3 linked regions of the Homo sapiens genome follow. The protein of the gene in region 2 interacts with the protein of the main gene of each other region in a pairwise test. Each region holds a gene or a part of one and is shown on either strand. Other genes may lie near its edges.

Evidence for each region.
Region 1: the proteins of SMAD6 (region 2) and CHRM5 interact in a two-hybrid assay, tested with the Homo sapiens proteins (one large-scale study listed by BioGRID and IntAct).
Region 3: the proteins of SMAD6 (region 2) and RPS6KA5 interact in a two-hybrid assay, tested with the Homo sapiens proteins (one large-scale study listed by BioGRID and IntAct).

What each region holds. Positions count from the first base shown.
Region 1 is NC_000015.10:34,062,380-34,065,341, reverse strand, and holds part of CHRM5 (muscarinic acetylcholine receptor M5), read right to left. Parts: intron 2,700-2,962; 5' UTR 2,625-2,699; coding exon 1,026-2,624; 3' UTR 1-1,025. UniProt on the Homo sapiens protein: The muscarinic acetylcholine receptor mediates various cellular responses, including inhibition of adenylate cyclase, breakdown of phosphoinositides and modulation of potassium channels through the action of G proteins.
Region 2 is NC_000015.10:66,778,736-66,782,235, reverse strand, and holds part of SMAD6 (mothers against decapentaplegic homolog 6), read right to left. Parts: intron 1,240-3,500; coding exon 701-1,239; 3' UTR 1-700. UniProt on the Homo sapiens protein: Transforming growth factor-beta superfamily receptors signaling occurs through the Smad family of intracellular mediators. SMAD6 is an inhibitory Smad (i-Smad) that negatively regulates signaling downstream of type I transforming growth factor-beta.
Region 3 is NC_000014.9:90,900,050-90,903,780, forward strand, and holds part of RPS6KA5 (ribosomal protein S6 kinase alpha-5), read right to left. Parts: intron 2,921-3,731; coding exon 2,759-2,920; intron 688-2,758; coding exon 562-687; intron 193-561; coding exon 59-192; intron 1-58. UniProt on the Homo sapiens protein: Serine/threonine-protein kinase that is required for the mitogen or stress-induced phosphorylation of the transcription factors CREB1 and ATF1 and for the regulation of the transcription factors RELA, STAT3 and ETV1/ER81, and that contributes to gene activation by histone phosphorylation and functions in the regulation of inflammatory genes.

The sequences.
Region 1 (2,962 bases), about 33 Mb from region 2:
CAAATCTGTTTTCCACATTTTGCTCAGGTTTGCCCTGTGAAGAGATTAGAAAGCAAGATCTCTGAAAACAATATAAGAACCTTAATTCAACAGCCTGGAGAAAATCTTCAGCCAGTGAAGGGCTCTTACACAATTAGTCTTCCTAAGAACAGAGCATAAATAAATGGGTTCAAATGGGCACAAAATAGAATGCACAATATCTGTTTAGATAAAAGAAAAAATTTCCACTGGCAAAAACTAAAATAACTGACTGTGGAGACTTGATCCATCTTTATTAGTAGAAAAGAGGCCCCTTGAAAGGACTGGGTATGACCAGGTTTCAGTCCTTCCAGACTCTGGATTCTGAGAGGAAGGATGGTTCCCTGGAGATCAGCATGGGTTCAGTGAGTACAAGGAATTGACATTGGATATGAAAGGGAAGAGCAAGACCTTCACTCAGATGTGGGGACAGGAAAACAAACCACAGTATAGTATAGACCACATAATAGCTGCATAATAGATAGTGATCAGTTTATGAAGATACATATTCTTAGAAGCCTGTTGAATATCAGTCTCGTTAACAAGTGACACTGTTGTACATTCTCCTGCTGGTTCTCACTGGCACAAGACAGCTTCATAGACACATACATATTGCACAAAATTCTATGACAGGTTTCCACAGGAAAAGGTTTCCACCTGGTCTCTGCTGTTTCCTACAGAAGGGGCATAAGTTCCCTGAGTCACTGTTCATTGTTACCCAGTGTGCTTCCTCTTGTGAAGGGCCATGAGCCTATCCCTTTACTTCATTGGCAAACTCCCCTGGCATCAAATGGCCTTGGTCATAGGCAAGAGTCATTTAATATGTCAGCAATTGCTGCAGCTATGGCCCCTTCCATTTGGCAACCAAACTTGAGCCTTTACAAAAATCTTCAAGGACTCAAAATGAGATGTCTTCTTTTTGAAAATATACAAACCAGAATCAGCTTGCTCATCCTCAGAGGATGTTGACTGTGGTCATTGTTCTTTCGAGAGGAGTTGTTGACTTTTCAGGGTAGCTTGCTGTTCCCCTGCCAGTACAACTTCTCTTCCACTTTTTTCTTTTTCCATCGGCAGAGAAGCAGCATCTTAAAGGTCTTCCTGAAGGTTCTGTTGCAGAGGGCATAGCAGATGGGGTTGACAGTGCTATTGACATAGCACAACCAATAGCCCAAGTGCCACAGGGTGACTGGGACACACTTGTCACAGAAGGTAGAAACCAGGACCATGATGTTATACGGGGTCCATGTGATGATGAAGGCCAGGAGAATGGCACTCAGTGTCTGGGCTGCTTTCCTCTCTTTGACTAGGACCACTCTCTTTCGTTTGGTCATTTGATGGCTGGGGTTGGGATTGAGGCCTTTCGTTGAAGGTTCCTTGGCCACTGGGAAGGGGCAGGGCATGATTTTCACCTTGTGACAGCCATTGTTGGTCTCCTGGTTCCCGTCAGCTTTTACCACCAATCGGAACTTATAGGCCACACATTTCTGACTCTTGGGTCTATGAGCAGCTGCTGGAGACAGAAGGTAGTTTGGGGTGTCATAGTCACTTTTTTCAGTTTCAGCTTTCACAAAAGTTTCCTCAGTCTCTTCAGCACTGAATTCTTCCCCTGGGCTTTCCTTACCCTGACTCTTGTAGACCACTTGGAGGACAGGGTCAGTGGCGGGCTTGTCCTCATCCTCTGAGGAAGGGTAGCTGCTACAGGTGGTGAGCTGCTCAGCTTTGGCCCAATTGGCGCTTGGGCCAGTGGCTTGGGATGGCTTCCCAGTGGTGGAGGTGCTCCTGCGGGAGGATGACCAGGAGGCCTGGTTCCTTTCCCGCTGGGCCAGGGTGGGTCGAGGACAGCGCAAGCAGGATCTGAACAGAGCCCTATGAGCTGGCTTTCTCTTCTCAGCTTTGGTCACAGAGTCAGAACCCTGGAGGTCAGCCAGGTCCTTGGTTCGCTTCTCTGTTTCCCGGTAGATTCGACAGTAGAGGATGGTCATGACAGAAACAGGGATGTAGAAGGCAGCAATGGCAGTGCCAAAAGTGATGGTGGGCTCAGAGAGAAACTGGATCTGGCACTCATCCAGTGGAACTGTCCGCTTCCCAACCAAGTACTGCCAGCAGAGGATTGCTGGGGCCCAGAGGATGAAGGAGATCAGCCAGGCCAAGCCAATCATGATGCCAGCCCTTTTCGGAGTACGCTTGGCCCGATATGTCAAGGGTCTTGTGATGGAAAAGTAACGGTCAAAACTGATCACCAGAAGGTTCATGACAGAAGCGTTGCTGGCCACGTAGTCCAGTGCAAGCCAAAGGTCACAAGCCAGACTCCCGAGAGCCCAGCGTCCCATGAGGATGTAGGTGGTGTAGAGGTTCATGGAGAAGATTCCAATGATGAGATCTGCACAGGCTAAGCTGAGCAGGTAATAGTTGTTAACTGTCTTGAGCTGGCTGTTGACTTTGAAGGAGATCATGACCAAGACATTGCCCACAATGGTGATCAGGCTTACCACAGCAGTCACAGCTGCAATGGTGATGACTTCCCACAACCTGTGGCGTTCCAAAGGCTGGTGATTTACTGGGGTGCCATTGACGGTGGTTGCATTGTGGTAAGAATCCCCTTCCATCCTGGTGCAAAAATTTTACAGTAAATAGTGTTAGGTTCTAGGCTGTTTTCTATTTCAGCTCTTCTTGGCCAGCATCTGGAAGAGAGGGAAACACATTAGCTTCGCACACCAGCATGATTTTCTTGTCCATCCATTGTTTATAGTTTTTTTTTTTTTTTTTTTTGAGACAGAATCTCGCTTTGTCACCCAGGCTGGAGTGCAGTGGTGCGATCTCAGCTCTCTACAAGCTCCGCCTCCCGGGTTCAGGCCATTCTCCTGCCTCAGCCTCCCGAGTAGCTGGGATCACAGGCTCCCACCACCACGCCCAGCTATTTTTTTGTATTTTTAGTAGAGACGGG
Region 2 (3,500 bases):
TTCTTTTCCCCACCGCCATCCCTATCCACTGGACACCCCATAGCCATGGGCAGGAAGGAACAACAGAACTTTCTCTGGTTTACTTAAGAGTAAATGTGACTTTCCTCCCTTTTCAATTTGTTCTGTCTTTATCCAATAAAAGTAAAACTTGAAAACTGAGGTCAAGTTTCAAGGTACATGATGGGTCAGAAATCCGCTGAAGCCCTACCTGCCCCTCTTTGTAAAAAGAAGACAGTTTAAAAAAAACTATAATGCGAATACTTTATTATCGAGTGACTGGTATTAGCTTTTTGTCTGGGCATTAATATCTCAAAAACCATACACCAAACCCAGGCTTTTCCACCTAGCTCTGCTGTATCATTTTCTTTATATATATATATAAAAAGTAAGGAAGAGGAAGGAGGAAGAGAAAGAAAATATATCTGTATTGAAAGAATTATAAGCCAAAGTGCGTCTTTCTTGTTTTGTCCATATACACACATTGCACCATACATAAATAATTACATTGTAAAAATGACTCCATAATTACAAGTATAATATATATTTCCATATAATATATAAAACTTTATATTAAATCTAGGTAGATGATATCTGGGGGGTTTTGTCCGTGGGGGCTGTGTCTCTGGGCATCGGCCCCTCTCGAGGCCGGCAGGTGGCGGTGGCCGCGGCCTCCCACCCGCCCCTCCCGCCGGGGCCGCCACTATCTGGGGTTGTTGAGGAGGATCTCCAGCCAGCAGGGGCAGGAGGTGATGAACTGCCGGGAGTAGCAGGGCCCCCAGCCCTTGGCGAAGCTGATGCGGACGCTGTTGGGGTCGTAGGGGCCGTCGGCGGCGTCGGGCTCGGGCGCGTGCTGCAGGCCCGAGCGCTCGAAGTCGAACACCTTGATGGAGTAGCCGGGGGGCACCTTGCGCACGACCAGGGCGCGGCCGCCGGGCGCGTCCAGCGTCGGGGAGTTGACGAAGATGGGGTGCTCGCCGCGGTTGTAGGCCCACACGCCGTCGGGCTCCTTGCTGAGCAGGATGCCGAAGCCGATCTTGCTGCGCGTTCGCCGCACCGACTCGCTGCGCTGCTCCAGGTTGAGCTGGCCCAGGCAGAAGCCGCTGCCCTGAGGTAGGTCGTAGAAGATGCTGACGGCCTGGTCGTACACCGCATAGAGGCGGCCCACGCGCGTCCGGTGCTCCCAGTACGCCACGCTGCACCAGTGGCTCGGCTTGGTGGCGTCCGGAGACATGCTGGCGTCTGCGGGACAAGCACAGGGACCGCCGCGTTATTCTGGGTGGGGAGGTGGGAGGCACCGAGGAGCGGAGGTGGGCACTGCTGTCTGCACAGTGGGAGCTGGGTAAGGTTTCCAGCATTCAGCAGTCATGTGGGCACCGTGTGCCAGGTTGTCCTCAGGAAATATGGCGCACAACGGGACATCTCTTTCACACACACAAGCTCACACAAAGGAGAAAACAAAGGTTATGAGCCACAGAGTGCAAGCCAGAGAGCACCTGTTGTGTGCTAGATGCTGCGGACGCAGACATGAACCATGCACACCCTGCCCCTGCCTCTTCATGCTAGCAGGAGAGACAGACAACTGCCTGCACGCCCCCAAAGGAGGGGCTGACTGTGGAGCAACCATCACGGACCCGGCGTGGAGCACTGTACTTCTTACTCTTCACAGCACACAGGACTCACTTGGTCCTCACGATCACTCTGCAAGGACGCCACCTTCTCCTCGTTCTACAGAGGAGGGCACCCCGCCAGAATTTGAACCCACTAGTCCAAGTCTCAACCTGACAGAGTAGGGTTAGGCTATTGGGGGATGGCGGGGGAGGTTGAAATCACATTAGAGGACTCAAGCACAGGGAGGCGGGCTGGGGGTGGGAGGAGTTGCCCCCAGGATCCCTTCCGGCCTGGAGCAGTGGGATTCCTGTGGTGGCCTTGTTATAAATATGACTGCTTGACTGCTCCCTGACTCAGCCTTAGCCTCCTGGTACCGCCCACCTGAGTTGGCTTTCTTGGCAGGAAATGCAGGTTTGTACCAGAACTGCAGCTACTTCTGCATGGCAGAGGAGCTGAGGGTCCCTAAATGACAAAGAAAATGGCTCCTTAAGGGCTCTGGAGCTGCCCAGCAATTGAAGGTGTGTGCTGCTCCTCTCTGGGCCTCAGTTTCCCCACTGTATAGCAAAGGGGTAGCTAAGATGTTACTGAAATCCCTTGTCACTGACTCGGGCCGTCTGTGTGTCTGGAGGAGTTTAACAATTTTCTGAGACCAAAGTTCAGACCAACACAGGCCAGGGTGCTCCCTGCTCTCATGTGGCCAGCTTCTCAGATTCTGACATCTGGCCTTTCCTTTGAGCTCACAGCTCTGAGAAGCAGGCAGGCACCTATAACTGCCCAGTGAGGTGACATGATTTGCCTGCCATGCCTGCTTCCACACAGGTCTCTGGCCTGGGCCTGTGCAGAGGGAGGCGTTCTGCTGGAGGCTTGACAGAGCAAAGCAAAGCAATTCATGGCTCTTTTTCTGAGGAAAACTGATCAAAGTCCAACCAAATCCCAGAGGACAACACTTCTAACAGCTTCACCTGGGAGCCTGAGTGAGGCCAGCTCTGGACGCCTTTGCCTTGGTCTTGCCCCTGCCTAGAAGCCCCAGAAGAACAGGGTGGCAGGGCCCCTGACATCCCCTTACACACTGGGAGGCCCGCCCAGCCACCCAGCAGGAGGCTGTCTGCCTCAGGGGCCTCCTGGAGGCTGACTGCTCTGCTGTGGCTTTGGGCTGGATACAGGTTTCATGAGTGTGCCCCTTGTCCTGGGCCTGGCACTGAGGTCCCAGACACAGGTCCCCAAGTCTGCTGGGGGGTAATCCAAGTCCTCACACCAGCCCGCAGCTTGGATCATTTTGCCTCAGAGTCTCCAGTGAGGCCTCTGATGCTTCCAGCTGATGGTCAGGAGAGGAGGAAGAGGTCCTGCATCCTGCCCTCGACAGAACTGCCCCTTAGCCAGTGGGCAATAGTGACAGAGACAGCTCAAGCCCTTGGGAGGTCACTAGGCTGCAAGCATCAGGCCAGTCCCAGCAGGTGGGCAGCTGGGAACAGCCAGACTCTGAGCTCCAGCCACCCCACTCCAGTGCCCCTCTCCCCAGCCACCCCACTCCAGTGCCCCTCTCCCCAGCCATCTACCTGGCACAGGTCTGGGAGTCCCCAAGGGCCAGAAAAGCAGCACCATGCCAGCCTAGCCACGAAACTGCAGCACCCACACTGCCCACCAACCAACAAGAATTCCACGAGTGTGTCAGGCACAGCAAGGTGGGGATGCAAAGAAGCGATGCCTGGAGTATGCTGGGAGACAGGACGGGCAACGGCATCCATGAGTGCCTTCTACGAGCTGGGCCCGTTCTTCACAACAGCCTCATCTCACCTCTACTAGCAGCCCATTCCACAGGTGAGGAAACTGAGGCCCAGGGTATACACCAGTGAATGCTGGGGCCGCCTTGGTGCTAGGCCACACTCTAGAGG
Region 3 (3,731 bases), on a different chromosome or scaffold from region 2:
TTAATTTACAGAATTCATGAATACCTAAGAAAGAATATTATATTAAAAATGGTCATACCTTTTGCTGATTATTTTGACTGCAAAAGCTTGGTTACTTTTTTTATGCACACACTTTCGACAAATTGAAAAACTACCTTCTCCCAGGGGTTTGTCCTTCAAATCTAGGTCATAGTGTTGATAGAATGGAGAGTCCTGTCAAGAAATCAACATCATTTAACTTCAGAAAATGTCAGTAATACACAAAGGATCAATAAAATTGTAGAGTAAAATAAAATTATTAATATTAATAAACAGGAATAGAATACATTTATAATCTAAAATTCATCTTTATAGGTAACTTCTATTTTCATCTAAATAATTATTTAAGATACATAATTCTCTATAATTGTAAAAAGAAGTTCATTCAACTTGACGTTAATTCTCTAGGGAAAATATTGCTATATCCCACTTTTAAAATTGCACTTTAGTTGAATTACTAGACTTAAGAACATTAATTAGAGTTGGTATTTAAACACTCACAAAACCTACAAATATGTCATATAAGTTACCACATCTATATACCTTCATCATTGCACTCCTGGCAACATTTGTCACTCCAGGACGTTCAACTCCCATGTGAAACTGAAGAGGGTCTATGACAGCTGCATTACGCTTGAATAGGATGGAAGGAGCAACAAAGGAATAGCCCTAAAAACAAGACAAAGAAAGATAAAGAAAAACAACTTGCAGTTTTCCAGTTTAACACAGATTAGATTGTAATGACTTTTTTTCCTTAGAAAAACACTCAAATATTTGTTGAGATGAGTCTAATTTTATTTTATTTGCAATCTAAAATGCAAGGTTATTTCAAATCATTTGAAAAATGCTGTTCAGAAGGATATAATGCCATCTTCTGGTAGAACTAAACCAATTCAAAAATAAAGGTAGAAAAAGACTTCTTCCCTATTCCACCCCCAAAATCAGACTCATAGATGAAATTCTCCTGGTTTGCTGATGAAATTTGTTTACAAACATAACTAACTTCTCAAAAAAGGATACAGTCAAGGTATTAAACAAAGTGGTCTTTTTTTTTTGAGATTGAGTCTGGCTCTGTTGCCCAGGCTGGAGTGCAGTGGTGCGATCTTGGCTCACTGCAACTTCTGCCTCCTGCGTTCAAGCCATTCTCCTGCCTCAGCCTCCCAAGTAGCTGGGATTATAGGCACATGCCACCATGCCTGACGGGGTTTCACCATGTCTCGAACTGGTCTCAAACCCCTGACCTCAAGTGATCAACCCACCTCGGCCTCCAAAAGTGCTGGGATTAAAGGCCTGAGCCACCAGACCCAGCCACAAAGTGGTCTTTAAATGCTATTGTTTTTCAAACTGGAAAAATGGCAAGTCTCACTAAAGTTAGTTTCTAATTTAGCAATTATTTGATTCTTATTAATATCTTCAGAATAATTAAATTTAAAATTGAGTTTTGGAAAGGAACAAAGTCTAATGGCAGAATGATGCTCTGAGCTAAGTGGTACAAAGACGGATGATTAATCCGTTCAAGCTAGAACATTCACTAATCAACAAACATTTAAAAAAATGTTCAATAAGTGCCCAGTCACATACTAGACAGTGATAAGCAAAGAAGAAAAGACACCGTCTGGATGGCCAGATTAAGCCATACTAAAGGTATACTTATAGAAGTCAAAGAAGCAAAGCTCTGATGCCATTTAATAGTTAGAATATTTTATCTTGTGTGACAAATGCCCTTTTCTAAATATAAAATCTAAATCTTTTTTTAACAGCAGTTAAGATTAATTACTGAAGGTAAAGAATAAGGTAACATTGTGAACTAAAGAATGTTTTTATATGGGGGTTGAGGGGCACGGTGGCTCATGCCTAGAATCCCAGCACTTTGGGAGGCCAAGGCAGGAGGATCGCTTGAGGCCAGAGTTCAAGACCAGCTTAGGCAACAAAGTAAGACCCTGTTTCTACAATTTTTTTTTAATTAGGTGGGTGTGGTGGCATGCACCTGTGGTCCCAGCTATTCAGGAGGCTGAGGCAAGAGGATCCCCTGAGCCAAGCAGTTAAAAAGGCTGCAGTGAGCTATGATCATGCCACTGCACTCCAGCCTGGGTGACAGAGTGAGACCTTGTTTCTTAAAAAAAAAAAATTTTTTTGGCTGGACGTGGTGGCTCATGCCTGTAATGCCAGCACTTTGGGAGGCCAAGGCAGGAGGATCACTTGAGGCCAGGAGTTCAAGACCAGCTTAGGCAACATAGCAAGATCCTATCTCTGCAAAAAATAGAAAAATTAGCTGGGTGTGCTGGTTTGCACCTGTGGTCTCAGCTATCCCAGAGGCTAAGGTGAGAGGATCACTTGAGCCCAGGAGTCTGAGGCTGCAGTGAGCTAGGACAGCACTGCTACACTCCAGTCTGGGCATCAGAGTGAGACCCTGTCTATATAAATAAAAATTTTTAAATATGAATAGAGGTAAAATAAAAGATTATTGTATTTTCTATAAAAGAATCTGAACAAAAATAAAATTTCAGGTATAAAATTAAAACTTCCCTTATATCAAAAATAAATGCATAAACAATATCTGCTATTGAGCAAACTATAAGCTTCGGTTAACAATGTGCAATATTTCTGCATTTAATAATTTAGAGGATATTAGAGAATCCCATTTTTATGATGCCAACAAAACTACTTCAATATGGGAAATTTAATCTTTTCTTTCAAAGGACATATGGCCAATGTGCATGTGCACAGGATGGGAAATTACCTGAAACAGCTTCTCAGAACTCTGGGGCAGGGCTGCGGGAGAATAAGTGGGATCCATTTCTGTGAACTCTTCTGCAAAGTTACTCACATCTAATTCATCTCGAATGACTGGCTTAAATGGTGCAGGCACTTTTTTGGCGGCTAAATCATCCCAATTTATTTTCTAAAACAAAGAAAGTTGGTACAAAGTAGAAATCAATAGTCAAAATGTACTTTCTAAGAATAACAAAGATAAATTAGGATTTTGACTGGTAGGGAGAGAGGATAAAAATAAGAGAACATATTTCAAATCAATAATAAAAAACATATTTTCTCCAAACAAGATCACAGCAGTTTATAGCTCCAACCAATGCTGTGCCTCAAAGATGAGACTATCGCTGTTGAATCTCAGAGTGTCCTCTGGGGGGCACCAAGACACCCTAGTTTACCTTTAAAGACAACAGAAGAATACTTTTGTCCTGAGCCTCCTCAGAAAGGTGTTAAGCCAAAAAGAAAACAAAAAACCCAAAACAAAATAAAAAACTGAAATAAAGGGTTTCCAAAGGCTCTACAGATGTGGATATTAGCTCTAAAAGAATGTTCCTATTTTCTAGAGGCAGTGTTACTTAGCTCTCTGCCTGCACTTGCTTTTCCTCCTGGGCATCCAGACAGACTGGAAAATAAATCCACTGTAAATCAGGCATGTGCTTATGTCTAGAAGTTCAAATGATACCATCATATGGATGTGATCACTCTTTTCTTATTCAACTGTGTTCAAGCATTTTAAACACTGCCTCTTATGTCCCCCATAGAATAATGCAAGCCCCTTTTCCCTCTAGGTCACTTACTGAGTTATATTACTGAAATCCAACCCTTTGCTCTGTTTCTTTGTGCTCCTTCTATCATTTAAAACAATCTCAGATAACACTTACTGAATTAAATCCTACAGGTCTCCTACTACCACATTTTTTCAAATCTAAGATGCCATTACTGAT